Linked DNA regions of Homo sapiens: region 2 is linked to region 1. Evidence: fine-mapped expression QTL. A gene starts in region 1. The other region holds a variant in brackets. All regions are shown on one strand. Distances are between the middles of the regions. Region 1 holds the start of PRPS2 (phosphoribosyl pyrophosphate synthetase 2). Region 2 overlaps PRPS2 (phosphoribosyl pyrophosphate synthetase 2).

What was found. PIP is the estimated chance that this variant, and not a neighbour inherited with it, causes the effect.
Region 2: its variant is the best candidate, but not a certain one, in a credible set for the expression of PRPS2 in whole blood (TOPMed, PIP 0.62).

What each region holds. Positions count from the first base shown.
Region 1 is chrX:12,788,139-12,793,519 of GRCh38, reverse strand. PRPS2 (phosphoribosyl pyrophosphate synthetase 2) reads right to left here and starts at 2,108. Exons shown (of 7, transcript NM_002765.5): 1 at 1,901-2,108. The coding sequence starts at 2,022. RefSeq lists a silencer at 1,403-1,852.
Region 2 is chrX:12,823,555-12,828,935 of GRCh38, reverse strand. It overlaps PRPS2 (phosphoribosyl pyrophosphate synthetase 2), which reads right to left. Exons shown (of 7, transcript NM_002765.5): 7 at 4,714-5,381. It also overlaps the pseudogene PSMA6P2. Among named protein-coding and RNA genes, the nearest start is that of PRPS2, 35 kb to the right of the region's middle. The variant C/G (reference allele first, on the strand shown) is at 3,244.

The sequences.
Region 1 (5,381 bases):
ATAGGCAATTCCCAAACTTCATGCTGAGTGGTTTTTGAGGTCCCACGATTTCTAATTATCAAGTGATGGTTATAAAATGCCAAAAACAAAATAAAAGTGAGTCTGCTTTATATTTGAACCAAATGTATAAACAATCATACTTCAGTGTCTGAGTGAGTTTTGCCCAGTGGCACATGTGGTATTTTTAGGAGAAACTCAACACTGACTTAGCAGTGAACTGATCTAGATTAACCATGCTCCTTAGCAAAAGATCATGCTGCACTGAGTACCTGGAAGGGCAACATATTTGCTTTCAAAATTTACTTCATCAACAAATTTCTCCTTTACTTATATGACGACACCTTCTGAACAAAAACTATTCTTCTTCTCGTGTTCTTACAGCGACTGAAACTTGAACAAGACTGGCAAAATACTGCAACACTCAAACCTAGCTCTATCCTTCTCCAGAGCCCTAGACCATCCTCTCAGACTTCTGCATTAAACACTGCAGAGTGGAATTCTTTAGCCAAAGTCCACCTGCCACTCATTCACAATGTTTCTTCGCTTATATTATCATCGGAGCCATAACTGGAATTTGCCACCTGGAAGAAGTCACGTAAGATTCACATATCCTAAAAAGCTGACTTGCCAAAATATAGCATCTTCCCCATCAGTATTAACATAACTCCTCCTTAAGAAATTTTTGCCTAACCCCAAGTCAAGATTTTCTGCTAGAAATTTTATAGTTCTAGATTTTACAATTAGGTCTATGATCCACTTCAAAGTTAATTTTTACAAATGGTGAAAAGTATGGATGGAAGTTCATATTTTTTGGCATATGGGTGTCCAACTGTTCCAACACCATTTCTAGAAAATGTTGGTAAAATTGAACCTTTGCCAAAGATATAAAAATTATCAGTAACTGTGGACAGTTAACGGTACTAGACATTGGAGGAAGAAGGGGGAAAAATGAGACCAATTTGAAATGAGTCAAGGAGCTGTGTGGACTCAGGCAGATAGACAAAGGAGCCCCCCAGGTCAGCTTCCGAGGATGGCCACCACCTGAGGCTCTCCTGGACTTGAGAAATGGGTGAAAGTTACAGTCGAATCACGGCGTTGTTGCTGGACACAGCAGAGTCCTAGAACAAGAAGGAAGCTGAAAGTCCATCATCTTTAAAGCAGCAAGAGTAGTGGGAGCAGAGGGGAGCCCAGCACGTGCGTCCTGGGGTTCTCACAGTCTTTCAAACCTTGGCACAACTGCACCCTCTGGATAACGCAGTGGTCTGCGCCCTGGCTGCTCAGGAGAAGCCAGGGAAGCTTGTAAAATCGCTGATCCTCCGCCCGTTGGATCAAACCCTTGGGGGCAGGTCGGGGGAAGCAGCGTTCGGACCGTCCCCAGGTAAACCCAGCGTGCAACCAGAGTTGGGGACGGGGGGAAACCTTTAGTCGCACGCACTGGTCTGAGGTTCAGCTTTGTAGGGACGCGGAAACTGGGACCAGCCAACCCAGGACGTCTCTCCACCGCGCGCTGACCCGATGCGGTTCCCGCCCGCTGCGCCCACTCTCTCCCCGACGGTCTGTGACCGCCCAGACGTCTCCCTTCCGGGCTGGGGACGCCAGGCCGGGCGGCACCGCTGGGAGGCCGGGAGCGGCTCGGGACCGCCGGGTCGCCGCGGTCCCAGGACCGGAGGCCCTGCAACCGGGGGCACAGCCGAGGCGCGCATCGGGACGCGCGGCGCCCCGCCTCGGTTTCTTCGCAGGCGCGGGCGCGGGGGCGCGGAGGCCGCGTTGCCACCGTCCCGCCCCGGAAGGGGGAGCGCGGCGTCCGCGGAGGTGGCCCGGGCAGGCGCCGGCCCCCAACCCGGCCCCGCAGCCGCGTGCCCAGCGCTCTCCCTAGCCCGGCCGCCGGCGCGGCCCCCACCTGGTCTCCTGGTTGCTGAACTTCTTCGTGACCACCTTGCCCAGCTCCAGGCCCAGGCGGTCGGCCACGCGCTGGGACAGGTCCTGATGCGAGCTGCCGCTGAACAGCACGATGTTGGGCATGGTGGGGCGCGGAACTCCGAGGGGCGCGCGGCGGCGGAGGAGGTGGCGGAGGCAACAGCGACAGCGACGCGGGAGGCTGCTGCTGCGGGAGCGGGAAAGCGCGGCGGCTAGATGTAGGGAAGGGGAGGAGCGGAGGGGGAGGAGCCGGAGGAGGAGCTAGAGGGGGCAGAGAGGGAGGAAGAGCGGGCGTGGAGGGGGAGCTGGAAAGTGCCGGGGGGCGGGGGCACAGCCCTGGCAGCAGTTTTGGACGCCCTGGGTGGTCCTGAAGCCCGAAGGTGTCCTTGCTCCGCGAGAGAGCTCCGAGCTTCATTCTTGATCTTCCAGACCTGCCTCGCGGGGAGAGCCAATGAACCGCGGTTAGCTGGGCACAGAGGGAGAGTTCGGGCCGGGGGGATCCCTCGAGGTGCTTCGCAGCCCGGAGCGACTTCCCACCCCGGAACACCGCAAACCCAGTGTGGGCGACTGGTGTTCAGCTATAGCAAGGGTCTGCAAACTACAGCCTATGGGCCAGATCGCGAGAGCTCCCTGTGTTTGTACCAGAGAGCTAAGCATGGTTTTCATACATGAACATTTGCACTTTATGTGATGATAGCAGACACCGCCTTTGAACTCCAATTAAGAGAAATATCCCCCCCGCAAAAGAATTCCTTTTCTCTCATTAATAGATGTGAGTTGCAAATAATTGTACTCAAATATTACCGTATTTTGGATTATATCAATAAAAACATTGTGACAATTTTTTCTCTCTTGTTATGTAAGTTCCTACGTAATATCTTCCCTTTTCTTGCTTGGTCTGCAAAATGTAAATATTGGCCATGTGGTCCCTCATAGTTCAAACTTGATGACCCCTGAACTACAGAGTTGCCCCTGCACCATGTGTCCTTAAAAAATCCAACCACTATGTGAGTCCTCATCACAGGCTGAGGGGAAGTATTGCTCTTGGTGGCTCACTGGATCAAACCAAGTCCCCCAGATTCACCATTTTTCGGTAGATGTGATGGTCCTTGGGGCACTTCACAACCTTCTGCCTGTTGGGTGCTCAAGGGCCTGATCCCAGGAACACAGATCTCCCTAGACAATCCAGCTCAGTCCCTCCACATCCCTGGAGTCAGGGCCTCCTTCCTCTCTTTCCTGCTAGAAACCAGCAAAAAGGTTTTCTCAAGATGCCAATGCAGTACCAGAGCCAACTTCAGGGCACAAACCAAGTGTAGGAGAAAGGAAAGCAGTCCCTGTCTATAGAGGGCTGGTTGGTGATGCTGGTCACAGTTTCACACTCCTCAACAAAGGCTGATTCAACCGGGTAGATAAATGGCTTGGTTTTACTAATGTTTGCCACGAATTGGCTCTCCATCAACAGCAAAGCCCACTTGCAATTGGGTTGTAGCCTACTCTAATCAGACTTCATAATGGGATTTGGGAGATTACAGGGATGATTCGCATCATTGGGATTTTTCATCTGGGTCCTTGTACTTTGCAAGGAGATTACTTGGCACATCGAGTGTTTCTTGTAAACTTTTGTATCTGCCAGCCTATCAAAAAGTTATTCAAACTGACAATTTTAGCAGCATTTCTGGCCCTTTTTCATTCCGCCTAGAGATGCATATGTGCCCTATTATGTGAGAAAACAAACAAAAACCCCTATCTGCAATGGTTTATTATCTATGTATTTCACAGCTAATTACCATAGCAATGAGATTTATACTTGACCCACTATGTTTAAAATTTTTATTGAGTCTGCTAATGTAGTTATATTTAAACTCTTCTAATAAAATTTACTATCAGCAAATTACTATAATTTTTATATTCTTAATATTTCTCTCATAGATAAAATTGACTAATAATGGTTTCTTCTAAATATATAGATGCTCTTCTCAAAGGGAAAGTGGCATCCTCTTAGCATGATGGGGCTGTGGTTCTTTGGTAACACAGAACCAAAGCTGATGGACTATAAAACAGTAAAAGTTAAAGCCCCTGGTCTTTGGGTGGGTAAATGGCTGCAGATTTGGAAGCTCGGATTGAATTGTGACAAACCATGGACTTGATAGCACCAAGGAGAAACAATATCTCAGTTGGGGCAACTAATACAATGATTGTTGGTTCAATAGTTTGATGAGTTACTCTGCTTAAATGCTAAATGTAAACAAGGTGAAATGTGCCATTGGGGTTGATGAGAATACTAATGGGAATCATTGAAAAATCATCATGAGTCACAGACTGTTCAGAAAGCTGTCACTTGTAAATGAGCAGCTACAGATAATTTTATTTAAGTGTGAAAACTTTCTCTCCCAAATGCCTTTATCCTTGATCCATAGGAGCCAGGTTGTGGGAAACATTGGTCTAGAGCAGGTTTCTGAACCTCAGCACAGCTGATATTTAGGCTGGGTAATTCTTTGTTGTGGGACTGTCCTGTGCATTGCAGATTGTTTAGCAGCCTCCCTTGCCTCTACCCACTAGATGCCAGTAGCACCTATCCACCACTGTGACAACCAAAAGTGTCCCCAGACATTGCCAAATGTCCTACAAGGAGCAAAATCACCACAGGTTGAGAATCACTAGTTTGAAAGAACCCCTGGCCCTTCTCTCCTCCATGTGGGCCTTTCTTCATGGTTGTTTGGGCTTCCTTACGGCATGGCTGCAAGGTTCCAAGGAGTGTTCCAAGAAGATAAGTCTCAATGAGCAAGTGCTTATCAAACCTCTGTTTTTAACTTGCTTGCTAATGTCTCATTGACCAAAGCAAGTTACATGGCCAAGACCAGCTGTCAACATGGTATGGGACAACTGGAGGGCATGAGTACTGTCCACCAACTGTCTACCACAGTGCACTTCTTGAACAACATTTGAAGTTGGGGAGCCTCTGGAAAAATGGAACACTTGTTCAAAGACCCAAGACTTAGAAGAGAAAAAGAACATATACTCTGTGCATATGTGATCTGGGTCTCAGACCGTTTATAAAATATACATTATCTTAAGATAAAATGTTAGTGGAAAAAATTAAAATGATGAGATATTTTCTATTGTTGATTTCTATCTTCATTGACTCATGGATAGAGATTAACGGTAAAACAATGATTTGAATTTATGAACAGTTTCACGTCTTCTATTTCCCACATCATCTAGCCAAGTTCTTTGTATATAGTAAGAAGTCTAAGTATTTGCTGAGTGAATTTATCCCTGACTATTTTAGGGCTGAGAAACGGAAGAAATTTCCCCAAGTCACATGGCTAGTTGAAAGCAGCAAAGGAATTAGAATGTGGATCTTCTAGTCCAGTCCTTTTCTCTCTAGAATGGTACCATCCAAAAGAAATGTAATGATTGTTTCCTATATGTTTCTATGAAAAAATTTTAAACTTTTTAAAAAG
Region 2 (5,381 bases), 35 kb before region 1:
AGGGTTGCACCAGGCATGGTGGTGCACACCTGTAGTTCCAGCTACTTGGAGGCTGAGGCAGGAGGATTGCTTGATACTATGAGTTCAAGACCAGCCTGAGCAATATAGTGAGACCTTCTGTCTCAAAAAAAACAGGAAAGAGAGAGACAAAGAAAGAGAGAGAGAGAGGAAGGAAGGAAGGAAGGAAGGAAGGAAGGAAGGAAGGAAAGGAAGAAAAAGAAAAGAAATTTAGGGTCGCTCCTTGGTTCCTTGGGTGAGTAAATGTCAATGGCACATACTGAGCTTATCCTATGGTAAATGTACATCAAAATATGCCCAGAAATAATCATTAGGATGATTTTAAAGAGTGACGTGTTCAGTTTTAGTTCTTAAAATATGTCCATAATTCATGGTCAGTCTTAGCTTCCATGCAAGAAAATACTAGATTTAGCACTCCTTGTGTAGGGAAAATCAGAGCATCATACGTCCTCAGACACAGATGGCCATGCCCTCACAAATGTTAAGAATCTCTCAATGTGCGGAAGGACAACGTACATCAGGTAACCTTCAGAGCACTCTGCCTTCTGCCTGGACTGTTCCCTGGGGTCTCTGAAGACCACTTATGGTGTTAAAGGTAGCTGTGCCAAAGGACTGGCAATCAAGCCAGGCTTGAAGGTGTTTTCTAAAGGTGCCCCTGCTTTTTCTCTCTGATTTTGTGACTACAGCTCTTGAGCTTCTATAGTTAGTTGAACAGATTTTAAAAGACCTGTGATACCACAGGTGCCCTGCACATTGTTGGGCTCATCATATAGCCTGCTTGTTTTTGCAACCAGCACAAGATCAAAGCCATGCTCGTGGGATTCCTTACCAAGGTAGTGCCGGGGATGCAGAACTATCCACCTTAGAAGAGGGAACGGGAGACCAAACGTCCTGGTTTGCCCAGGACTGAGGGGTTTCCTAAGATATAGGTCTTTCAGGGCTAAATCGAGAAAAGTCCCACGCAAACCAAGACAAGTTGGTCACCCTATTGAGAGCAACCATCTGTGCCTTCAGTTAGAACTATTCCAACTACATCTAGCATAAATGGCATTGCCTATTAAAACTGCTGGGGACTTCTGCAATCATCTTTCCTCTAATTTTTGCAGAAAGATGCTCATACCCAGAGTGGTGTACACATTTTTCCCAAGGTCACCCAGCTTGCTAGCAGCATATCAGGAACCAGAATCTAGATCGCCACACTTCCAATTTAGGGCATTTTCCACTGCATTATGTTTTTCACTTTCCTATTCTCTTTTTTTATCACTCTCTTAAAATGTAAAATTCATTCAGCCAGGTTTTCTTTTGGCCACAGAACTCGGCTGTTAGGATAGTGAAGACTGTTCTTCCCATTTATATTGGGCACCACTTTTGGTTGTATTTATGATGGGATGGATGGTGAATGAGGGCTACAATGAAATCAGGTTGTTGTAAATGACCTCAATTGATTACCATCTCTATAATCACATGACATTCATTCCTACCTGTTGTTTCTACAGCCCACTGGAAGTATTGTTGTTGTTTTTAAGAGACGGGGTTTCTCTATGTTGCCCAGGCCAGTCTCAAATTCCTGGGCTCAAGCAATCCTACTGCCTCAGCCTTCTGTGTAGCTGGGATTACAAGAATGCACCACGGCACTCAGCTGAAAGTTGTTGCTGTTGTTGTTGTTTGAGACAGTCTTGCTCTGTTGCCCAGGCTGGAGTGCAGTGGTGTGATCATGGCTCACTGCAACCTCTGCCTCCCAGGTTCAAGTGATTCTCATGCCTCAGCCTCCAAGTGGCTGGGATTACAGGCATGCGCCACCATGCCTGACTAATTTTTGTATTTTTTAGTAGAGATGGGGTTTCACTATGTTGGCCAGGCTGGTCTCAAACTCCTGATCTCAGGTGATGCACCTGCCTTGGCCTCCTAAAATGCTGAGATACCAAAAGCATTGCTTTTATTTATAGAGTCCTAATCAATTCAGTAGTAGGAGGAGTGGGAGAGGCTCCTTTTTCAATCCAGGGACCTCCATAATGTTGTTTTTTTTGTTACCAAACACACAGGTAAGTGGCATCATGGATTTGGTAAACTAACAACAATGTGAGTGCATCAATCTCTGCTTCTGTAAGAATCCCGACTTTAGGATTTTCAACTGTCACTACTCCAACTTCTATTTCTGAAGGTTTGAAATCAATTGATAGAACAGTAGACAGGCATGTAATTGCAGTTTCCACTGTCTGTTCAAATGTCCAATCAAATTTCTTTTGCACTTTTTTTTTTTTTTTTTTTTCTGAGACGGAGTCTCGCTCTGTCGCCCAGGCTGGAGTGCAGTGGCGCGATCTCGGCTCACTGCAGGCTCCGCCCCCCGGGCTCACGCCATTCTCCTGCCTCAGCCTCCAGAGTAGTTGGGACTACAGGCGCCCGCCACCTCGCCCGGCTAATTTTTTGTACTTTTAGTAGAGACTGGGTTTCACCGTGTTAGCCAGGATGGTCTCGATCTCCTGACCTGGTGATCCACCCGCCTCGGCCTCCCAAAGTGCTGGGATTACAGGCGTGAGCCACCGCACCCGGCCCACTTTTTTTTTTCAAGGAAGCTGGTTAACTCAGTTTGTTTAACTCCTGCTGCAGTGGCTTTAAATCACAGCAGTAACCTGCAGGATCATACTTTCACACCTGAGGGCCTTGTTCTTCATCTATACCAATGAAAATCATACAACCAAGAGACCTCATTGTAGCATTCTGAGTAGTATCAGCAATTCCACACAGAATGTCCACAGGAATCTCATAGCCGTACTTGTATTTCCAGTTAGCTGCCCCATAGCGTGCCCTCTGTACCTCTGTCATTCCGGTCATCACAGTGACAGCCAATGTTTTCAGTTATTTTGAGTAAGTGAGTCACTGTGCTGGAATCCGATAATTTGTCAAGCATTTCTTCTGTATGATAATTACAGCAGTCTTTTCCTCTGACAAATACTGATGGAAGGCCACCCAGGTTAATAGCCTTAAAAGCATATGCATATTCTACTTGGTAGTGCTGGCCCTCGGGCGAAAAAAATGTTAATGTGGTGGGCAAAACCAGCGCTGGAACCACGGGACATGCTGGTAGAACCACTACTTTCAGCATAATCAAGTTTTTTTTTTTTTTTTTTTTTTAACATGCAACTATTTGTCACCTAAATGCTACCCTTCACTGAGGCAGTCACATGCCAAGACAATGTAGCCCTTCTAAAATGGCAGGAGGGCAGT[C/G]TGTTCCCCTCTAGGATGAACACCTAGAAAATGCATGAAAATCTTGCCTCTTCATACCTTACATTCTTTCTAGGGGAGTTTCAGGAGGCTCACTCTAAAAACTGAAGTTAATGTACAAACCAAGCAATTCTAAACACTTTACACATAACGTCTCATTTATTATCCCCATCTCACATGTAAGGAAACTGAGGCATAGGGGTTAAGCAACCAGCCCAAGGTCGTTGTTGCTGTTGGTTTTTAAACTCCGGTAAGTGGTGAAGTCTGTGTTCCTGGGCATTATGCTTTCAGAATAGGAAACAGAGCTCAAAGACTGCAATAAAGGAAACCACCCAGGATGTGATCTTGGAAAGCAGGGGCAGAAAAAAGGTGGAGGGATGTGTTCCTGGGGCACAGGGAGATAAATCAGGAAGATAAATATTGGTAATGAGAAGGAGGAGCCCTGTTGATTTCACGCAATTTAGATACAGGATAGCTGAGTATGTTTCAGCCCCTAACTCCCATCTTCCCTGGCACATCCTTGCTCAAACACATCATGTACCAAACGCCCTCTGCTGTCCTGCGTCAGTCCACACTGGAACACACCATAGGGTTCTGGAAAATTCCGACGTGAACCGTCTAATGGTGATCACCGAGCCCTTCCTGGTATCCCCAGCGTGATTCCAACCTCTGCACGCCTTAGTACTCCATCTTTCCCTTCACTACTTCCCTGTCCCCTGTAGTTCAGCTAGGGGATTAGATAGGACATGCCATAGGAAATGAAACGTCTCTGAAGAGGTGTGGCAGCATTATTAAGTGCAATTGTAAAGCTGATGAAGTGTCTTTGGCTTTCACTTCTCCTTCACTTCCCTCCTTTCTAGTACATTCTATCATGTTCTCTCACACTGTGATCACCTTTTTTCTCAGATGGACCTGGATGTAATTCTTCATATTTCACTGTGACTTCAAGACACCATGTTGCCATTCTTAGTGTTACACATACTTTACAGCTGAGCTTCACCAGGGGAACGTAATTATGACTTGACTTTGCGCTCACGAGAGTAGTTTGAAGTATCACTGAACAGGCTGTTCTATGGGGACAGGAATCCTCCTCGGTGCTTCTGAAATCAATGAATATGAACAAGTTTTATGCAGCCTACATTTAAGTTTGGTTTGCTCCAATAGATGGATATTGAACATCACTACTCTGATGCGTGAACACACTGTACCATCTTTAATTTTATAGGAAACATGTGGAATTAACAACGTGGACACCTTATGTGGCACAGCTGTTACGCTTTGAGGAAAGGCGATTGCTGGTAAGTTCTTCAGGAAGAAACACCTTCAAAATGGAAAACAGCTGACATCAATTAACTTCTGGCTTTTCTGTAATTTTGTATGCTGGCCTATAATCGTAAAGTAGCAAACATTTTCAGGTACTGCAACACATCACTCCGTCAAAACATATTACTCCACAATGATACATACAAACTATGAACGCAGTCAGAATGATTTTATTGAAATGTTTTAGTACAGTGTTAGAGGATCTTAAAATCTTACATTTTAAACCAATACAAGCACTGCAAATGATATACTCCTGAATCTAGTTGATGTAGTATCTAAAAAGAAAAGTGATCATATGAGTATCTATAAGTTGACTAATGTAATTTAAGTTGGAGGCTAAACAAACAACTTTGGTATATTCATATTTCTCTGGCTCCTGTTTTTGGCCAGATAAATGCCAGGTCCACCCCCATTCAGTAGAATTGGACAGGACCAATGTATTTGGTGGTCTCACTTAAGTTTCCACGCCAGGAGCAGCAAGAAATGTACAAATTTTGGGATTAAGCTGCTCCCAAGACAGTCTTCATCACCTTTGTGAACTGGAAACACCAAATAGTCAAGGTCTGAATTTCCATTGTGTGTGGCTAAGTCCAGTCGCATTGGTTCATAAATGTATTCTGAAGGATTTTAAAATACAAAGGTGGGGCTAAATAATGATAGAAACCATCAGTTCTTAATTCAGAGAATGACAATGCAGGTTCCTATATCCTTTTTAAAAATCTGAGATCATTATTTTAAAACTAGCTCTATACATTCTTAGGCTTTAAATTTAATCTTAGCTGAAATGATTACCTTTAAGTCAGTTGGCTTTAGGCCTT